4 linked regions of the Homo sapiens genome follow. The protein of the gene in region 4 purifies or fractionates together with the protein of the main gene of each other region. This does not show direct contact. Each region holds a gene or a part of one and is shown on either strand. Other genes may lie near its edges.

Region 1 (7,046 bases), on a different chromosome or scaffold from region 4:
CCTCCTACCCAGTCTCCTGAGTAGCTGGGACTACAGGTTTGTGCTGCTCTGCCCACCTTGTTTATTTAAGAAACTTTTTTATTGGTGTTTCTTGCATTTTTTTTTCTTTTTTTAAGCCAGAGTCTCGCCCTGTTGCCCAGGCTGGAGTGCAGTGGTGCGATCTTGGCGTACTGCAACCTCTGCCTCCCAGGTTCAAGTGATTCTCGTGCCTCAGCCGTCCAAATAGTTGGGATTACAGGCATGCGCCACCACGCCCAGCTAATTTTTGTATTTTTAGTAGCGACGGGGTTCACCATGTTGGCCAGGCTGGTCTCAAACTCCTGGCCTCAAGTGATCCACCCAGCTCAGCTTCTCAAAGTGCTGGGATTATAGGAGTGAGCCACCATGCCTGGCTGATGTTTCTTGGATATTTTTAATGAAATAAACGTTATTAAGAAACACCTGTTCTAGTTCCAAATAAAGGATTTTCAGTATTTTTATTGGTTTAATACATTTCTTTAGTGATAATAACTTGATCATGTTAAATATTCGTATTAAATAACATGATATGAATTTCTTTGTTAGGTTTTCTCTTATGTTCTTTCGAAGGATTTAAATTTCTCAAGTAGGTCCTAGGTATTTTCTCTCTCTCAATGCTATTCTAAGGAGATCTATGTTGGGTATATGAAGCGTTGCTGTACTGTAGACGTTAATTTTGTCAGTAGGGGGCGCATTGTTACCAGTGTCTGAGCTTGCTCCTTTGATGGAATCCTTAGCTTCTGGAAGGAAAAGACCCTTGTAACTTTCCTACTGATTCTGGGCATAGGTTTACCCCTAAGCTGCTGAGACAGAAAGCCTCGGAATATTTTTCCAACCAGACCTTGTTTTGCTTACGTGTACCTCCCTCATGATTTAATTCCTCAGCAAGAAGACAGTTTCGTGGTGGGCACAGCCGAGGGAACAGTCTTCCATTTTCAGCTGGTCCCTGTGACATCTAACAGCAGTGAGAAGCAGTGGGTGCGGACAAAACCGTTCCAGCATCACACTCATGACGTGCGCACTGTGGCCCACAGCCCAACAGCGCTGATATCTGGAGGTGGGTTCCCCCTCTGGTGAGGCTGCTGCTTTACCCTGCCCAGTTCTGGCTGTTCTCGTGAGGATGACTTCTAATTCTGTACACCTTCTCCCCTGCTTTCCCAGGCACTGACACCCACTTAGTCTTTCGTCCTCTCATGGAGAAGGTGGAAGTAAAGAATTACGATGCCGCTCTCCGAAAAATCACCTTTCCCCACGTAAGTGTCCATTCCAAGCCCCTGCTAACCCCTCATCTCCCCATCCCTGTGTCCCCCTGTCCCACAAGCTCTGAACACAGCTCACGCTCGGCAAATTTGTAGGACTTTTTTTTTTTTTTTGAGACAGAGTTTGCTCTTGTTGCCCAGGCTGGAGTGCAATGGCGCGATCTCGGCTCACCACAACCTCCACCTCCCGGGTTCAAGCGATTCTCCTGCCTCAGCCTCCCGAGTAGCTGGGATTACAGGCATGCGCCACCGCGCTCAGCTAATTTTATATCTTTAGTAGAGACTGGGTTTTTCCATGTTGGTCAGGCTGATCTCGGAACTCCCAACCTCAGGTGATCTGCCCGCCTCAGCCTCCCAAAGTGCTGGTATTACAAGTGTGAGCCACCACGCTCAGCTTTGTGGTCCTTTTTTTTTCTTTTTTTTTTTTTTTGAGACTGAGTCTCTCTCTGTCGCCCAGGCTGGAGTGCAGTGGTGCGACTCCACTCACTGCAAGCTCCGCCTCCCAGGTTCATGCCATTCTCCTGCCTCAGCCTTCCGAGTGGCTGGGACTACAGGTGCCCACCACCACGCCCGGCTAATTTTTTTATTTTTAGTAGAGGTGGGGTTTCACTGTGTTAACCAGGATGGTCTTGATCTCCTGACTTCGTGATACGCCCGCCTCGGCCTCCCAAAGTGCTGGGCTTACAGGCGTGAGCCACTGTGCCCAGCCCCTGCCTTTTTTTTTTTTTTAACCATCTGGGACATGGAGATATTGTAGGACTTTCTGTAGCTACCTTCTTCATTCCTTCTGTTTTTGAGGCAAGCCACTGCAAAGACATTTATGGGGGCAGGAGATATGCAGCAGCACACCTAGTTCAGTTTCTGGGGAAATTTTTCCCTTTTCCAAATAGTTGTGGGTTATGGGAATTTTGTTAGTTTGTCTTTCAGGGTAGGCTCTATTCTGGGTGGGAGCGGGAAAACCCAGGCTTCCAGTGTTCTAGGTAAATGGTACCATCTTCCCAAGCTAGAAAACTTGCTCCCCACACCTGCTGCCCCATTCATTCAAGCAGTAAACCTCATTGAGTCTACTCATCAGTATCTTTATACATATGTTATAGATATAGATAGATAGATAGATAGATCAACAGCTCTATTGAGGCATACTTGATATATTAAAAATCATACATATTTAATGCATATGGTTTGATGAGGTTGAACATAGTCCTCATAATCTCTTGAATCGAGTCATTCATTTCTCTTTGTCTACGCTGGCATCATCCTAGTTTGGATCAGTGTCTTTTCTCATCTGGGTTCCTTTACAGTAGCTTCTTAATCATGTCCTTTTATTTGCATTTGTGTCATTCTAGCCTATTCTTCATTGATCTTATTTTATTTTATTTGTTTTTGTTTTTTTGAGACAAGGTCTTGCTCCGTCACCCAGGCTGCACTGCAGTGGTGTAATCTTGGCTCACTGTAACCTCTGCTTCTTGAGCTCAAGCAGTCCTCCCACATCAGCCTCCCGAGTTGCTGGAGCTGCAGGCATGCGCCACCAGGCTCAGCTAATTTCTGTTTTTCTTTTTTTTTTTTTTTTTTTTTTGAGACAGAGCTTTGCTCTTGTTGCCCAGGCTGGAGTGTAGTAGTGAAATCTCGGCTCACTGCAACCTCAGTCTCCTGGGTTCAAGCGATTCTCCTGCCTCAGCCTCCCTAGTAGCTGGGATTACAGGCACCCGCCACCACGCCTAGGTAATTTTTTTTGTATTTTTAGTAGAGACAGGGTTTCACCATGTTGGCCAGGCTGGTCTTGAACTCCTGACCTCAGGTGATCCACCTGCCTTGGCCTCCCAAAGTGCTGGGATTACAGGCATGAGCCACTGTGCCCGGCCTCGGCTAATTTTTTTATTTTTTATTTTTTTTAATAGAGGCAAGATCTCACTATCTTGCCCAGGCCAGTCTCAAACTCCTGGTCTCAAGCAATCCTCGCACCTCAGCCTCTCGATTGCTGGCATTACAGGCATGAGCCACTGCTCCAGGCCCATTGATCTGTTTTAAAGCACCTTTGTTCATCACTCCATGCTTCAAAGCCTCTGGTTATCCCTGTTGGCTTCAGCATAAAGACAGTTTCCTTAGTGTGTCTTATAGAACCTGTCTCCATCCAGGCCTGGCCCTTCAGCTTCTTTTTGCACCTCTCGTGCTTGTAGCACCCCCACCCAGGCTAGCCATTCTCAAGGTCTTTTTGTTCCCTCAAATACTCTTACCTTTGAGCTATGTCACATGCCATCACCCTCCTCAGAATGTTCTGCCCTGCCTCCTTCGCCTGACTGGTCTTTCCCAGTGAACCTCATCTGGGCTTCTGTATTTACCACCACACAGCTAGGTTAGATGTCCTGTCTCCTTATTTTTCAGTACATACTGTGTTTAGCCGTGTTAAAATTCTTGGCACACTGAAGTCTAATTGCTGATTTAATTCTGTGTCACCCCTTTAGAAGCATGTTGAGAGCAGTAGCTATGTTTTAATTCATCATCGTCTTCATAGATCTCAGGGCAGTGCCTGGCATATGGGAGTACTTAGGAAATATTTATCAAGGAAATGGATTTCAGCAGTAAAAAATGTGCTAAGGTGGTGCTACTGTATCTGGTACTAAGGCAGTAGATGACCCTGACTTATTTTTTTAACTTCTTGATTCTTGGATATAGCGATGTCTCATCTCCTGTTCTAAAAAGAGGCAGCTTCTCCTCTTCCAGTTTGCTCATCACTTAGAACTTTGGCGACTGGGATCCACAGTTGCAACAGGTAAGATGGGAGCACGTTTTTTTCAATAAGAAAACTGGAGAGAGAAGCCAGAAATCAGAATTGCGGTTGGAATTCTGCTTATAGAAAAACTGAAGTAGACTTTTGTGTCCATTTTAACTAATGGTTTTCCCACCCATTAGATAAAGCAAATAAGCTGTTTAGAGTATTAGAATCTTTAGCAGGATATTGGATCATCTCTTAAAAGTTTATGGCTCTAGGTGGTGCGCTGCAGGGTGTAGTCAAGGTAAGGGTTGAAGAATCGTAGTTTGCGCTAGCTTAACTGAGGTGAAAACAGGCTGTTGAAAAACAACAAGATTTAATGATGGGTAATGATAATCCTGTAGAAAAAGAAGATCACATGGATCTTATTGGAGTGACAGCCTAGTGGCCTTTTTGACTTATTAAGGAAATGTTTGAGTCCTCTCATTTGCAGTGGATTAAAATCGAGGCCACACAAACTCCACCTGTGTCCCTGGCTATGGACTAGAGCTTCAGGGAATTAGTGATGTATCAGAGGATAGAAGCAAAAGAAGTACTCACTGCTTTCTCTTCATATACCCCTCAAAAATTGTGAGCTTACTCAGTGAGCTTGTATTTTTCTGATTTCCCACTGATAGAGATTCCATTTTTCCAAGGAGTAACTTTTTAGAAGAAAAATGTACAAATACTCTTTCTTTCATAAGAAAAATCTCAGGGAAGTTTCTTGTTTCAGGCAAGAATGGGGATACTCTTCCACTCTCTAAAAATGCAGATCATTTACTGCACCTAAAGACAAAGGTAAGGAAGTTTGTTTAGGCTCTGAATTCTAGAGCCTGAATTCTAGGCTCATAATTCCCATTCTGAATTTTGAGGTTACTTAGTTTGCATCATAAATTGTATAAATTCTAAAACTATTTGAATGAAGGACTGTGTCACCAGGACTGGGTTTCCTGTGATTATAAGTAGGACGTTGAGGATTTATTAGATGGATGTATACAGGAAATAGGTTTCTCTTCTTTTGATATTATTATGAAAATAATGTGCTTTTATTTATTTATTTATTTATTTATTTATTTATTTATTTTTGAGACGGAGTTTCACTCTTGTTGCCCAAGCTGGAGTGCAATGGCACCACCTCAGCTCACCGAAACCTCCGCCTCCTGGGTTCAAGCGATTCTCCTGCTTTAGCCCCCCAAGTAGCTGGGATTACATGCATGCGCCACCACGCCCGGCTAATTTTTTGTATTTTTAGTAGAGATGGGGTTGGTCAGGCTGGTCTTGAACTCCCGACCTCAGGTGATCCGCCCGCCTTGGCCTCCCAAAGTGCTGGGATTATAGGCGTGAGCCACCGCGCCCAGCCATGTGCATATTTTTAAAAACTCAAATAGTACAAAAGGGTATACAATGAAAAAAAAATCATTTTGTGAGTTTTTAAAAACTACATACATGTTACATTCAACTTTTCTTTATTCTCCAGATTCTTTTTTGTTTGGTTAGTTGGTTGGTTTTTTTGTTTGTTTGCTTACTTTTTTGAGGCAGGGTCTCATTGTGTTATCCAGGCTGGAGAGCAGTGGCACGGTCACGGCTCACTGCAGCCTCAACCTCCCAGGCTCAGGTGATCCTACCACTTCACCCTCCCAGGTAGCTGGGACTACAGGTGTGCACCACCATGCCCGGCTAATTTTTTGTAGAGTCAGGGTTTCACCATGTTGTCCAGACAGGTCTTGAACTCCTGGGCTCAAGCAATCCTCCACCTCAGCCTCCCAAAGTGCTGGGATTACAGGCATGACCCACTGTACCTGGCCTTCAAATGTTCTTCATTTGCTATTTCTTAGAAGTCTTTAAAGCAGAACGCCGTACACAAAACAGAAAATAAGTACTTCAAACCACCTATCCTCCAGAGCTTTCCTTCAGTAAATGCCTCCCTGCTCAGGTTTCTGAAGTTGGGGTCTAGTATGAGGCTATCTATGAAGTATTCAAAGGGCCAAAATAAGAATAGACCTCCATTCTTGGATTTGGAAATCAAAGCCATGCCTTTTAGGTGCTCTGCCTCTGAAATAATCATATTAATGCAGACCACACGAGGATCGAGATTATGTGTAGATATCTGTGGGTATGTCCAGAGTGGCAAGAGCTTGAGGCGTCATGTCCCAGTGCACCTTGTTATGTGAAGTTTAATTGCACATTCATCTTGATTCCTGATATTGCCAGGGTCCTGAGAACATTATCTGTAGCTGTATCTCCCCATGTGGAAGTTGGATAGCCTATTCTACAGTTTCTCGGTTTTTTCTCTATCGGCTGAATTATGAACATGACAACATAAGCCTCAAAAGGGTAAGTGATAGTCCAATATCTGGTCACATAAGAGGAAACTTCCTAAATATGTCATTTTTGTGTGAAGTGGAAATCAACTGGATGTGAATCCTTGCTCAGTTAAAAACTATTTGGAGATTTGGAGAAGGCTGTTATGAAACAGTGTTTTATTTCTTTCTTTCTTTTTTTTTTTTTTTTTGAGACGGAGTTTTGCTCTTGTCACCCAGGCTGTAGTGCAATGGCACAGTCTTGGCCCACTGCAACCTCCGCCTCTTGGGTTCAAGCGATTCCTGTGCTTCAGTCTCCCGAGTACCTGGGATTACAAGCACCCACCACCACACCTGGCTGATTTTTGTATTTTTAGTAGAGATGGAGTTTCACCACCCGTTGGCCATGCTGGTCCTGAACTCCTGACCTCAAGTGATTCACCCGCCTCAGCCTCCCAAAGTGCTGGGTGCTGGCATTACAGGCGTGAGCCACCGCACCCAGCCTTTTTTTTTTTTTTGACCGAGTTTCACTCTTGTCACCCAGGCTGGAGTGCAATGGCACCACCTCAGCTCACCGCAATCTCTGCCTCTCGGGTTCAAGCCATTCTCCTGCCTCAGCCTCCCGAGTAGCTGGGATTACAGGTGCCCACCACCAGGCCTGGCTACTTTTTGTATTTTTAGTAGAGATGGGGTTTCACCACGTTGGCCAGGCTGTCCTGA
Region 2 (4,889 bases), on a different chromosome or scaffold from region 4:
TACACCGCATTATCTAGGTTTATGTTATTTTACAGAAGAGACTGAGACTCAGTGAGGTTAACTGCTCAGTCACAGAGCTAGTAAATGGTGAGCCAAAATTAAAAACCAAGCTTGTCTCTGACCTTAACCATTATGCTATACTGTCTCTACATATGTATTATAAATCTCAAATCATATTTATTATTTTGCGCAGAAAACCATCATTGGCAAGGGCCCTTGCCTTCATGTTCCTAACAAGCCTCACACCTAGCAATGTCTAGGCAAAGTAAGTCCTTGAATAGCCAGTGCCATCTTCTATCAACCCACTCCAGCACCAGAGACTGTGGCACTCATAGATGATTTATCTTTGCTGTTTGTAATTTTTGTCCAGTATAAAAGATAACCCATGGATTGTAGTTTAATTGCCCCGTAGGACATAAACCAGTTTTGTATCTGTGGAGAGGCCCTCACCACCACCCCCAAATTTGAAGATTTGCTAGGAAGACTCATAAGACTCCACATACAGTTCTGCTCACGGCCATGATTTATTACAGTGAAAGGATACAAAACAAAATCAGCAAAGGAAAAAAGACACATGGGGTGAAGTCAGGGGAAACTAAGTGCAAGCTTCCAAGAATCCTCCGCCAGTGGAATCACAGAGGATGAGCTTAATTCTCCCAGCAACCAGTTGTAACAGCACTTGTGAAACACTGTCAACCAGAAAAGCTTGTTAGAGACTGAGTGCCTGGGGTTTTTACTGGGAGCTGGTCACAAAGGTAGTCTCTGCCTGGCACATACCAAAATTCCAGACTCCCAGAAGGAAAGCAGGTGTTCAGGAGAAACTATATTGTTTTACAGTTTAGATATAGTAAGCTACTTTGATCAGTTCTGGGAATGGTGGAAGCCCCCTGAACTCCAAGTTCCCAGATGCCAATCAAGGGCCAACCTTGTAAAGCAGGTCTCTAAGGTTAAGTAGTCAGGTCGGCTTCATTAACACTTTTTTCTGCACAGCAATTTTATCTCAACATTTTTTCTTCAATGCCCATAAATACTCAGTTTCTTGAATTGTACTTTGAACCAGGTTTACTATCTGCTGGTTTCCTCATTAATGAGTCGAATAAGTCTTCGACACATGCTCATCTTATACACATGTATATATATGAGTCATGTTGTCAACTTAAAAGGTTTGACAGATAATAACCTAATCAAGCTAAATAAAGTCCAGCCAAAATTAATTAATAAAAAACATTAACTAAATAATATCAAGGCTCAATCTACACCTCACTTTAGTTATTTAGGAAAGAAAAAAAATAACCTTTATACTAGCATTTCACACTTTCTTACTGACTTTAGAACGTCTTCTGATTTAGGTGGCAATCACTTGCCTAGTTGTACTTAGGGCAATATTAATAAAATAATGAATGTTTCTGCAAGAAATAATATATAAAGATTAATTTCCTCTTTAATTTTACCAATCAGAATATTAAAAATACTACATCATTGTTTTAGATGAAATTCCCCATTTAAATATATTATACATAAGCCAAATTTTAGAAATAGCTCCTTGTATCACTGTACAATTTTGGGCCTTTAAAAAAAAAGCTCAATTTTAAGTTTGAATATAATGTGCAGTTTATATAACATATATATTATATTATATATACTTTATACATTATATAAAGTATTATCCTTATTGTGAACTTTATTATGCTTCTGAAATTTCTCCATCATTTCAAATTTACTTCAATAAAAATTTCCCTATATTTTGTGAATTGCATTTTCAAATCAGAAGTAATGTTACAAATTTCTGTCTATAATAAAAAACAAAATATTCACGCTTTATTAATAATCCTAATTAGAAAAGGATGCAATTAAGAGCTGGCATAGCTAACATAAGCATAAGAAAGGTAAACTTTTCTTGAATTAAAAAAAGGAAATACTTTAATGAAAAAAAATCAAGGACAGAAGGAAGGAGAAAATTTTCTAAACAGCAGCTGGTCCTTCTTCACAATTTGCATTACTTATGCAAATACATCATTAAATAATACTCATCTTATATTTACAAAATAGAGGAAAGGGAAAAACCTAAAGTATCAGGATCTTTCATTTCTTATCCCTCTTCCAATCTTCTGGATACATTAGTTTACATACCAACTAAACATGTGATACTAGTTAACTATAGTTGAGAGCTTATCAATTAAGTCATCAATAGTGTAAACAAGAAGTTGAATGTCTGCTTTTTCCCTCATTCGGTGATCACTGTGTTTTCGGAGGATGACATCCACATCTGTGCTGAGTACTCGATCGGCAACCTGCATTGATGTATGCCAAGGTACAATGTCATCCTTCATGCCATGGAGCAATCTTATGGGGCAGTTCACAGGAATTGGGCTATGTAACAAGCAGTGATGTTCAGCTTCTTTAATGAAACTGTACTGAACGTTATAAACTCCTTCTTCAGAGTATTTTGATGGCATGCTCCACACACCTTTCATCTCTACTTCCTTTTTTAGCTATTGGAAAAAGAAAGAAAAATAAAAGTATTTGTGACTTTAGGCAACATTAACACATGCAATAGTTTTAAGTAATCTAATGAAAGCAGTTCTTGAATAAGAGGATAGAGATAACAAAAGTATAACAATAATAATTATCAATAATTACTACATGCAAGGTACTGTGATGGGTATTTTATACATATTATTCCATAAGATTCTGATAATAATTCTGTTATTATTCTATTTTTATAAAAGAGGATATTATGGTTTAGATAAATGAAATACTGTGTGCAACAGTTCAGGGCTAGGCTACTAACTGTTATGGCTAAGACTCAAACTTAAATTTAAATTTATTTAATTTTATCATACACTATCTCAAATCAGATGTTGCTTCACCCCAACTGAAAAGAAAAATGAAGAGGGAGAAAAGCACTACAATTTCTTGGAATCAGTCCAGGTATCATTCATATTTAAATAAAATCAAATCTTAGAATAAACATTGTTTAGATTTCAAAATTGTAAACCTAAAAGTGCTTATAAGTAGCTAAAATGGATATGGCATAGGGAAAGAAGAGAAAGAATCAAACACAGAACTAAGAATAAAAAAATAAGAGTAATTACATTGTAACAATCATACACATACTCATGCAATTTTAGGCTGAATGTAAAGAAATATAGTTTTTCCTTCCAGAGTCCTATAAAAGAGAAAAAATTTGATTTTTGTTCTGGATGACAAAGAAGTCTTCCACATACTTCCTGAAAGCCAAACAATAATATCTGTATATTTATTCCCTTAAAATGAAATATACATGTCCTTTGACTTTTTGAGAACTCTTATTTTTTATATAATTTATCTTAATTTTTCTAAAAAAATTAGAATTTTGTATAATGAGTAACATGCAGTCATTATAGAAAACATAAAAATAATTAAAGAAATAAATCACCCATAATCCTATCTTATGGAGAGAAAAACCATTAATATATGGCTTATTTCCTTCCAATATTTGTCTATATGTGTTTTGGTTTTTGTGTAATATGTAAAATACATACATATTACACATTCATATACAGTTTTCTATGCTGTTTATTTAGTACATATATTTCTGGGTTTAAAAAATTCTATGAAAAGGTTTTAAATGCTGCACAGCAGTCCACCATAATTGACTTAATTAGTTTGACCATCTCATACTGTGGTATTGTCATGAACACTTTTGAGCATAAAAGTTTATTTATATATAATAGATTATTGGAAAGATGATCACAGCTTAAAACTAAAACAAAAATCAAGCTATGAATAGTTTCAAGACTGTTACAATCATATAATATTAAGGGCATTTCTAGAAAAATGGAATGGACATCTTATCAAAAATTTTAAAAAATAAGGAAAGAAAAGCTACACATATTTGAAAAATTTAAAGTTTCAACAAATATACTATGATTTTCCCATGTTTAAAATTGTTAATTTATTGCAAATGTAAAAAGGAAAACAAGAACTTAAAAAATATGTATGACATAATATAATCTATATGTACTTAGGCTTTAATGTATTTTTAATTCCAAAAAGACTTAATAATTCAGTAAAAAAAAAACTGTACTTCTAAATATGTCTCCAAATGATTTAAAATTAATGAAATTCTACAAAACTATAAAATGTATATAAATCTATATCAATATCATGGCATTCTCTGTATTAAAACAACATATGAACCAAATATTTAAAGTAAAGATGACATTTAGCTATCCTCAAGCTACTCAGGATTGTTTCTGAATTTGTAAATACTTCAGCAGATAGAACTTAGTCCCACTGGTTATTAGCTGAAGTGGAGGCTTTGCTAATTAAGGCGACACTGAATTAATAATAGTTTCATTTTAAGCATCCCTGGCCCCCAACTAGCTCTGCTACCTGCCACTGAATTGAATGAAAATGGTCCATCTGAAGAACAAAGTTAACTTTATAAAATGTTGTATGTCTCAAGTCCTCAAGAACAAAAAGTTCAGAAACAGCAAAGACATTACCCAAAGAAAATGTACAATATATTAAGTTCTACATCAACAAAACTTATCAAGGCAATGTGGTTCAGAAGCTTACATTCCCAACAGCTGTGCATCATGTCTGAGGCCCTCTAGTGTCCAAAGAAGGTGATAATGATTAGAGTCAGTTAAAGAGGATGGTCAAGTTCTTAGAGAAGAAATGAGAAATGCTGGGCTTACTATTCCCAGGGTTATAAAAGATAGTAAAAATCTCCACATCTGCTCCGTTGACATTGTTAGGGCTAGCTGTTTATGTGGAGAAGAGATAGCGGTCTTAGTGTTGGTGCTCTTTCCTTATACATGCTTTTAAGTTAACCAAGGGCTCAACATGCTTCTGTTAACAACTGCTTATCTGAGTAAGTATTAGCAAAAAATGCCTTGATT
Region 3 (2,761 bases), on a different chromosome or scaffold from region 4:
GGGAGGCTGGGCCCATCCACCACCTGGTGTCAGCCTTCATGCTGGCTGAGAACATTTCCCACGGGCTCCTTCTGCGCAAGGTCAGGATCTGCACCCCTAGCCTTCCCTCCCAATTGTTCACCTTCCTCTGAACCATTCGGGCCCCTTCAGCAACCGATCCTCCTCCCACCCAGCCCTCAGATTGGATTCTGCCTTCCCAATGTAACTACCCTTCCCCACCCCAGCCTTCAGCCTGGGGCCCCAACTTGGATTTTGACTAATTCACCCTTTGCACATCAGGCCAAGCCTGGATTCCCCTCCCCCTGCCCTCTGCTGTGGCCTGGACCCCCAGAACCACTGTGCCCTGCCCAGCCTCGGGGCCACCTGACAGGCCCTCCCTCCCTGTTGCCTGCCCAGGCCCCCGTCCTGCAGTACCTGTACTACCTGGCCCAGATCGGCATCGCCATGTCTCCGCTCAGCAACAACAGCCTCTTCCTCAGCTATCACCGGAATCCGCTACCGGAGTACCTGTCCCGCGGCCTCATGGTCTCCCTGTCCACTGATGATCCCTTGCAGTTCCACTTCACCAAGGTCAGAGCCCAGCAGGCAGCCAGGCGGGCGGGCGTCCCAGGACGCTGGGGTCTCCCGGGTTGGGTGGGGGGCGGTGGGGGGGGCGGTCTCTCGGGTTGGTGCTGCCCCCTGCTGGTAGAGCATAGCTGGCCAATTGACAAGTCTTATGGAGTTGAGGGGTTGGGGGGTTGGGGGGATGGGGGGGCGGGGGTGGGGAGAGTGAGTGAGGAGGCTGGGGAAGGGAGGCAGGGGCAGCTGGCCAGGGCGCACTCGTCTGAGGGAACCTGGCCCGTGCAGGAGCCGCTGATGGAGGAGTACAGCATCGCCACCCAGGTGTGGAAGCTCAGCTCCTGCGATATGTGTGAGCTGGCCCGCAACAGCGTGCTCATGAGCGGCTTCTCGCACAAGGTACTACAGCGCCTGCCTGGACCTTGGCATGGCATCACTCCTCCCCTCCTCTGCATTTGGGGTCCTGACCTGTCCCTGGGATGGCTTGGGGTGGGGCATGACCCCTCAGCACTGGCTGCAGCCCTGCCCATTACCCCCGCTCCTTGCAGGTAAAGAGCCACTGGCTGGGACCCAACTATACCAAGGAAGGCCCTGAGGGGAATGACATCCGCCGGACCAATGTGCCAGACATCCGCGTGGGCTACCGCTACGAGACCCTGTGCCAGGAGCTGGCGCTCATCACGCAGGCAGTCCAGAGTGAGATGCTGGAGACCATTCCAGAGGAGGCGGGTATCACCATGAGCCCAGGGCCTCAATGAGCCTGGTCCATGAAGTGCCCACCACATCGCAGCACTTTTACCACGTTTTGTCCTCAGACCCCGCCCATGCTGTGTGGTCTCTGCATGTCTCCATTCTTCTCTGTCTCTGTCTTGCATGTCTCCTACCATGTCACTGTCCCTGGGCCACCCAGTGAAAGCAAAGCCTGGGAATCTGCTCATTGTTGTTTGGGCTCAGGTATTGAGCCTGATGGCCCAGGTATTGAGGGCCTCCCCTGCTGGTGGCCCTGTCCTGGGATCCTCAGAAGCCTGACTGTCCTATGGGCTTCTCCAGTGTCCACAGGGGCTTGGGATGGTTGTGGGGGGCTGGCCCCTCTAGCCTTTCCGGTCCTTCCTGGGCAAATCTAAGCCTTGGCCAGGGCCGAAGTTTAGGCCCCTGTCTTGTTCATGTAGCCGAGGGGCAGGCGGGGGACCTCTACACCTCTGCTGTGGGCACGGGGCTGCTGAGGGTCTGTGGAACTCCAGCAGCTCTGCACTGGGTAGAGCTGGGCCTAGAGCTCAGTCACAGGCCTGGGCTTCCTGGCCTGAGTGGGTAGACGCAGGCGGCAGAGGTGCTGGACCACATCTCCGCCAAGTCACTGCCCAGCAGCCTTCTCCGTCCTGTCCCCAGCCCACGTGCTCCTTGGGTGTCAGCTTCCTGTGCCTCTGTGGGAGAGGGCAGCTGCCTTGTGTTATGTCTGGGGCCACAGTTGCTGCAAAGTCCTGGATCTGCCACTCAACCCCGGGAGTGGTGTTCCCAGTGTGGCTCCCAGAGCTTTGACCAGATTGTGATCCCAGCTGGCCCCTATGTTGTGTTCTGGACTGAGGCCTTTGCTGTGAACTGCAGTGTTTCATACGAACCATCTTTCCTAGTGCATGAGAAATAAAGATTATTTAAGTAATGAGGCAGGTGGGGTTTCTGTTGGGAGAGGGAACGCCGTGGTGGGAGGTGGCTGTGGATGGAGGCACCGTGCATTCTGAGGGGAGGGACTAGGCTTGGGTGATGTGTATGTTGTGCATGTGGAAACTGACAAAAGAAGCTGTGGGAGAGAGGAGATGCCCATCCAACCCTCATCCAGCCTGTTCCCTGTGAGGGGAACACCTAGCCCCGGGTCTGTGACACATCCCTGTCACACCAGCTTGGGGGCTGGTGTCTGTTTCCCACCTTGTACTTCCTCCCCTCTTCCAGCCTCTGAGGGGATGGCCTGGTAGATGGGAAATATGCACCTACAGACAAACCTGAGACCAGGGTCTTCTGGGGGGGTCTTGTTTAGATGGCCCTCTCCAGGCCATACTCTCAGAGATTCTGATTCAATAGGCAGAAGGTGTGGCACAGACATCTGCAAACTCTCGGGCAGATTCTATTGCAAGAGGTTGGAACAAGCCTGTGCATTCCGATTCCAGCCCCCCGCCCCCGCCCCAATCCCATCTCAGCCTCTGTCCCATGT
Region 4 (6,935 bases):
ATAATACTTATATTCGGCCATAGAGTACCAACAGCAGTGTGCATCAGCTGAGAAATCTGAAGTCTACATCATGGATAGGATTTCAGTTACAATTACAGTGTCAGTTTCTGAAGGATTGAGCAGCTGGATGGATTTGAGGACTATGGAAAATCTTACAGTCACGACACCCATTGTCTACTGGGGTAAACAGAAACTTAACTTTGTTCAAATAAAGTTATATTTAGGTCCAAAGGTCCTAAATGTAATATTCCATAAATGAACCCCATGTAGAACAAAGCACCAAAAATAACACTATTTGTGAATTACAGCAAATATACTGTCTCACGCTGAGAACAAAGGAATGAGTGGACAGCAATTAATGGGCATTGTTGTCAGTCTTATTCTAGATACCTTTAACAGTGAATCCTTAGAATAATCCATGACCTGAGTTAGATAATTGTTTTGCTTCAAAATATTTTATCTCGGAGAAATTATTTCCATCTCATGTTAATCTCAGGATAATTCCTTTTTTTTGGTTTTTCTAACCATAAAAGGATTTAATCACCTCCTAAAAGCCACTTAAAAAATCATACTACACCAGCTACCTGTATGGCAGTATCCTGAATTCTCCAGCTTTCAACAAACTTACCACATAAAAATATCAAAGGAAATGGTGGCCAGCAATCAGGAACTCAGTTTTTGGAGTTGCTCCTGCTCCTCTGAACTGGGTCTATTCCTGGGCCAGTACTAAGCTACATTACAGTAAAGCATTTGAGTTTTAAGCACTTTCAGCAAAATCATTTACTATTGTTACAGCAACATAGATGGTAGGAAGACACAAACTTTGGAACAAAACACAAATTTTGTATTCACCAGTCAAGTGTTCTTGGACAAAACACAATCCCCGGGCCTCCATTCTCTCATTCATAAAGTGGAGAAATTTTATCATAGTGAGGGATTTATTTCCCTAAGGTAAGCTGCAAACTATACCCTCTTCACTTTTCCAGTCAATTTCTAGGCATCGTTTGCATGGCTTTCATTCCTCCTGTTCCTGGTATGTGACAATGCATGAGACACACACACACACACACACACACACACACACACACACACACACCCCAACAGGCATTCTTCTTCCCTTTCCCTTCACCTTGAGCTGCAGATGCTCCCTCATCCTCTCTCTCTTCAGCAGGTGTAGAATCCTGACTTTGAGTTGGTGATTCCACTTCGTCAGGTTGCTCATCACTGGACTCCTTGTGGTAGGGAATATGTGTGTGAGTGTGCAAAGACAAAAAGTTTTGTTATTAATACATGTCAAAAAATATATACGTATACACACAGAGAATGCATAGATGTTTCTGATCATAACTAAACCTAAAAATATTTCTCCAACTTTATTCTATATGGTTAATAAGGCTACTCTACCCACAGAAAGGTTACTGCGAGAAAAGTTACCCACAAGGACTTTGGAAGCTATTGCACTCTATGTTGGAATAGATGTGTATAATCTATGTGTCATTCACAAGCAAAGCATGAGAAAGAAGTCATGGCCAAAAGTTGGAGAACACAAGAGAAAAAAAAAATCCTCCTGAATCAATATTTCCTTCATGAGATACCAGAATCTTATTTTTTTAATCAGCATGAACTACCTTTATTAGTGTATCTATACTAATGCAACAACACTATCACAAAAATTAATTTCTGCTAATAGAAAACATCGAATTAACGTTAAAGCACTCAACAGCATAGGCCCAATTACCTCAGAAGATTCTACATAGATCATTGGTCTACGCCGATAGATTAATCTTCTTAGAAAACCCATATTTCACACTGAAAAGAGAAAATTGTGATTGGGAACATGCACTTGAGAGGACAGCTATATTCGATCACTTCCATGGCTAAATGTTAACTTGTCATTTTAATTTTGAAAATACTCTCAAAATAAGTCCCAGAGTTAAGTGCAAGTGTGTACGTTTTCTGAGTGCTTGCAAAGCCACTTATGCTCCCCAAGCTGGCAGAGTAGTCATCTTAAGGCATGTGGCAAAAGGCAGAGGACATTATTTTAAAATTTCTTTTAGACACAGAATCTCGCTCTGTTGCTCACGCTGGAATGCAGTGGCGTGATCACACTTCACTGCAGCCTCGACCTCCCGCTCACGCGATCCTCCTGCCTCGTCCGGAGTAGCTGGGACTACAGGCGCGCACCACTGCGCCCCTCTGACAGAGGACGTTTCTGATGAGGTTTAGTTTCACAAGCGGACTCCACATGAAAACACTAGTGAATCACAATTCCCGTGACTGCTGCTTTTGGCACACTCCCACTTACTAGAGCCATTCACCCCCCTCAAATCAAGTTTGGTTGGGCCACACAGCCTCTCCCAGTCCTTCCCATTGTTTCCGGACCTTCTATGGCAGAGGTGAGACCTTGCCACGCTTCTCACTCGGGTGTTTCTCACTCGGGCACTCCCCACTCCACACCGCTGGGGGGCGCTCACCAGCCCACAGCCTTCCCAGGTTCCAGGCCCCTTCTTTACCGCCATCTTCACCACCCACCTCCCGCCTCGGGGCCCCATTCAGGACTCAGGAATGTGCCCTGTGTCATGGGTTCCTACCACCTCGGGACTTTGACCCCTCCAACAGCACCCGCAGCACTCGCCTCATTTTCACCTGAGCCCCTGACCGCTTCCCCTTCATGGCCCACTTTCCTCCCTGTCCTGGCCCCTTCACGACCACAAAGCCGATGGCGGCGTCGCAGCCTGTGAGGAGAAGGAGGACGAGCTCGAGGCCCTTCTCTTTTGGAGGCCACTGAGGCCCTTCTCCCTCAAAAGCCACACACCACCAGACCGAGGGGCCCACCGAACCTGCCCGAAGCCCACTGGCTCCGCCTGAAGCCCACTGGCTCCTCCTCACCCTCACTCACACTTCAGCCCCTGGGAGGACTGGCCTGCGGATCTACCAGATGAGTCTCAGTAGAGGAAAAAAGTGTCCGGACAGCAGGAACGCGACTGCACACTCTCACAGCTCCCTGGCGTTCTCCACGTGGGCGAAGGGGCCGACGGGAAGGCACCCAGTGAACATGCGCACTGAGGCTAGCACCCAAAGGTGGGGAGGGCTGCAGTTCCCAGCCCCACACCCCACACTCCCGATTTTCATCCCCGTGAAGATAATGGAATCCGACCTCCCTCTGCTGTTTCATATGCCTCGGGTACTCAAATACCTCAAATAGTGCTCCCCTCAAAACTCATTCCATCTTCAACTGAGCCCCCCTCCCCTCCAGGGCCCTCTCTTGCTCTGGCCCTGCCATAGGGACAAGGACCATGGTGGCTGCCTGTGAAGTGAGGTAGACGACCTGCTAAAACAGAAATAGCAACATACCTCATAGCATTATACAAGACTAAGAGTCTCATAACTAAATATTAAAAATGTCTAGCATATAATTCAAAATTACTCAGAATATGAAGAACCAGGAACATAGGGCCACTGAAATAGGGAAAGACAATCAGCAGACATCACTGCTAAGATAGAGATGTTGGGATTATGTGGGAAAGCCTTTAAAGATGCTATTTTATAAACGCTTAGGCTGGGCGCGGTTGCTCATGCCTGTAATCCCAGCACTTTGGGAGGCCGAGGCGGGTGGATCTCTTGAGGTCAGGAGTTCGAGACCAGCCTGACCAACATGGTGAAACCTCGTCTTTACTAAAAATGCAAAAAATTAGCTGGGCATGGTGGCGCGCACCTGTAGTCTTAGCTACTCGGGAGTCTGAAACAGGAGAATTGCTTGAACCCAGGAGGCAGAGGTTGCAGTGAACCGAGATCACGCGACTGCACTCTGGCCTGGACAACAGTGAGACTCCGTCTAAAAAAAAAATGCTTAAACAAGCAATCATGAACACTGTTGAAACAAGTAAAAACAAAGTCCTGGCACACACACAAAAAAAGAATATTTAAAGAAGAAGCAAATGGAAATTTTAGAAGTGGAAAATATGATAACGAAGGAAAATAATTCTCCCCAAATGGATTCAATAGCAGAATGGAGACAAGAAAAGAGTTTGTGAACTCAAAGATAGAGAAATAGAAATTGTTCTGTGTGGCCAAGAGCAGTGACTTACACCAATAATCCTAGCACTTTTGCGTGCTGAAGTAAGAAGATAGATGGCTTGAGGCTAGGAGTTTCCAACCTGGGCAACATAGTGAGACCTTGTCTCTACAAAAAAACAATTAAAAATAGCTGAGTGTGATGACACATGCCTGTAGTCCTAGCTACTGTGAAGGCTGAGGCAAGAGGATCCCTTGGGCCCAGGAGTTCAAGGCTGCAGTGAGCTATGATCACACACTGCAGTCCAGCCTGGGCAACAGAGTGAGACCCTGTGTCTAAAACAAAACAAAAAGAAATTGTTGAAGTGTCTCATAACCTGATATTCAAAATGTCCAGCATATAATTCAAAATTACTCAGAATACGAAGAAGCATGAAAGTTAGGCATCTTGGCCAGGTGCAGTGGCTCATACCTGTAATCCCAGCATTTTGGGAGGCTGAGGCAGGTAGATCACGAGGTCAGGAGTTCAAGACCAGCCTGGCCAAGATGGTGAAACCCCATGTCTACCAAAAATACAAAAATTAGCTGGGTATGGTGGCGGGCACCTGTAATCCCAGCTACTCGGGAGGCTGAGGCAGAGAATTCCTTGAACCCGGGAGGCAGAGTTTGCAGTGAGCCAAGATCGTGCCACTGCACTCCAGCCTGGGTGACAGAGTGAGGCTCCATTTCAAAAAAAAAAAAGGAAGTTATGGAATTTCAAATGGAGAAAGACAGACAACTGACACCAATGCAAAGACAGAGATGTTGAGATTATCTGGGAAAGCCTTTAAAGATGCTAGTTTAAAAAAGCTATAAACATCCATGTCCAGACACAAGTTTTCAACTCCTTTGGGTAGATACCAAGAAGTACAACTACTGGACTGAATAGTAAGAGTTTGTTTAGTTTTGTAAGAAATACTGCCAAACTGCCTTTCAAATTGGCTTTACCATTTTACATTCCCACCAACAACGAATGAGAGTTCCTGTTGCTCCACGTCCTCCCCAGAATTTGTTGTTGTCAGTGATCTGGATTTTGATCATTCTAATAGCTGTGTTTTTGGTGCAGTTTTCATCAACCCTGGCTGCCCATTGGAATTGCCTGGTAGAACATTTTAAAAATGTTGATTTTCGGCTGGGCACAGTGGTTCACACTTGTTATCCCTGCACTTTGGGTGGCCGAGGTAGGTAGATCACCTGAGGTTAGGAGTTCAAGACCATCCTGGCCAACATGGTGAAACCCCATCTCTACAAAAAGACAAAAATTAGGCTGGGCGTGGTGGCTCATGCTTGTAATCCCAGAACTTTGGGAGGCTGAGGCGGGCAGATCACCAGGTTAGGAGATCGAGATGATCCTGGCTAACACGGTGAAACTCCATCTCTGCTAAAAATACAAAAAATTAGCCAGACGTGGTGGCAGGCGCCTGTAGTCCCAGCTACTTGGGAGGCTGAGGCAGGAGAATGGCATGAACCCGGGAGGTGGACCTTGCAGTGAGCCGAGATTGCGCCAGTGCACTCCAGCCTGGGCGACAGAGCAAGACTCCATCTCAAAAAAACAAAACAAAACAAAAATTAGCTGGACATGATGGCAGATGCCTGTAGTCCCAGCTACTCGGGAGGTTGAGGCAGGAGAATTGCTTGAACCTGGGAGGCAGAGGTTGCAGTGAGCCGAGATCGTGCCATTGCACTCCACCCTTGGTGACAGAGTGAGACTCCGTCTCAAAAACAAACAAACAAACAAAAAAACCACAAAGATATCGATTATCAGCCTCCACCCCAGGACAATTAAGCTGGGTCTGGGGCTTAGTCATTTATTCATGAGCATTTAAAAAGTATTTCTCAGGTTATTTAAATGCGTATCTGGTGTTGAGGATGGCTAGTTTAGAACATATATTACCAATAGGCCTTTGACGAAGTGTTCAGAGCAGTGAGAAAGGTAAGATGTAAAGCTTTTACCATCTTAAAGTCAACCAGCTTATTGGAGATGGCTTGATCAGACACTTTTGGAAGACCCTGCTTGAGATAAATCAAATATAAGCAAAGTAGTAGTAGATGTTGAAGCAGAGACAGCTAAAGGGACATTAGAGCTGCAATTTAGGGCCTTTCAGGGTTCCCCCAGATGATTAAAACTAACCAGAGGCCATAACAATCATCTTTTCTAAGACTATAGAGAGAATAAAAGCAGAAGGAAAGGGAGAAAAAAACCATAACTATTTTTTAAACCTTTCCTAAACCCTTAGCATATTTTGTAGTCCTTACTCTATCACCTGAACTAGTCTATTTTATAAAGCGGCCTGGATAACCTTTAAAGTCCTCTATGTGGGTCTCTATCAGCATTTGCCAGTCATAACTAATGGACTGAGATAGAAGACACAGAAGCTGTGCCTGTAGAAGAACATAAGACAATGACAAGAGACCAAAAGCAGGTCCATTTTGTACAGCTGCCTGGGGGTGTACATTTAGGAGGACTGCAAAAGTTAGAAGACATACCTTACTTATTAAAAGTGGTAACTAGAAAATGTGCCCCTAAGGAAAATCAGTATTTTTTTAAAGTATACCATTCAGTATTTTTAGTATATTCACAAAAGTTGTGCAACCATCAGTACTAATTCCAGAACATTTTCATCACCCCTAAAAGAAACTCTATTTTCTGTCTTTATGGATTTTCCTATTCTGGACATTTCATGTAAATGGAATTATACAATATGTAGCCTTTTGTGTCTGGCTTCTTTCACTTTGTGTAATGTTTTCAAGGTTCAACCACATTGTACCATGTATTAGTATTTCATTTTTTATTATTGCTGAATAATATTCTATTATATTGATGTACCACATTTTGTTTACCAATTCATCAGCTGATGGACATTTAGGGTCTTTCTACTTTT

What was found.
Region 1: the proteins of PAGE1 (region 4) and UTP4 purify together in Homo sapiens (co-immunoprecipitation; 2 studies listed by BioGRID and IntAct, with this or other methods). This does not show direct contact.
Region 2: the proteins of PAGE1 (region 4) and ABHD10 purify together in Homo sapiens (co-immunoprecipitation; 2 studies listed by BioGRID and IntAct, with this or other methods). This does not show direct contact.
Region 3: the proteins of PAGE1 (region 4) and AMPD2 purify together in Homo sapiens (co-immunoprecipitation; 2 studies listed by BioGRID and IntAct, with this or other methods). This does not show direct contact.

The regions. Positions count from the first base shown.
Region 1 is NC_000016.10:69,149,634-69,156,679, forward strand, and holds part of UTP4 (U3 small nucleolar RNA-associated protein 4 homolog), read left to right. Parts: intron 1-903; coding exon 904-1,075; intron 1,076-1,179; coding exon 1,180-1,271; intron 1,272-3,950; coding exon 3,951-4,047; intron 4,048-4,759; coding exon 4,760-4,824; intron 4,825-6,237; coding exon 6,238-6,360; intron 6,361-7,046. UniProt on the Homo sapiens protein: Ribosome biogenesis factor. Involved in nucleolar processing of pre-18S ribosomal RNA. Part of the small subunit (SSU) processome, first precursor of the small eukaryotic ribosomal subunit.
Region 2 is NC_000003.12:111,988,980-111,993,868, reverse strand, and holds the end of ABHD10 (palmitoyl-protein thioesterase ABHD10, mitochondrial isoform 1 precursor), read right to left. Parts: intron 3,170-4,889; coding exon of another isoform or gene 3,128-3,169; exon of another isoform or gene 3,118-3,127; intron 2,493-3,117; coding exon 2,148-2,492; 3' UTR 501-2,147; downstream 1-500. UniProt on the Homo sapiens protein: Acts as an acyl-protein thioesterase that hydrolyzes fatty acids from acylated residues in proteins.
Region 3 is NC_000001.11:109,629,837-109,632,597, forward strand, and holds the end of AMPD2 (AMP deaminase 2), read left to right. Parts: coding exon 1-80; intron 81-396; coding exon 397-570; intron 571-846; coding exon 847-957; intron 958-1,106; coding exon 1,107-1,316; 3' UTR 1,317-2,215; downstream 2,216-2,761. UniProt on the Homo sapiens protein: AMP deaminase plays a critical role in energy metabolism. Catalyzes the deamination of AMP to IMP and plays an important role in the purine nucleotide cycle.
Region 4 is NC_000023.11:49,692,970-49,699,904, forward strand, and holds the start of PAGE1 (P antigen family member 1), read right to left. Parts: upstream 3,016-6,935; 5' UTR 2,900-3,015; exon of another isoform or gene 2,890-2,899; intron 1,810-2,889; 5' UTR 1,802-1,809; coding exon 1,739-1,801; intron 1,233-1,738; coding exon 1,130-1,232; intron 1-1,129.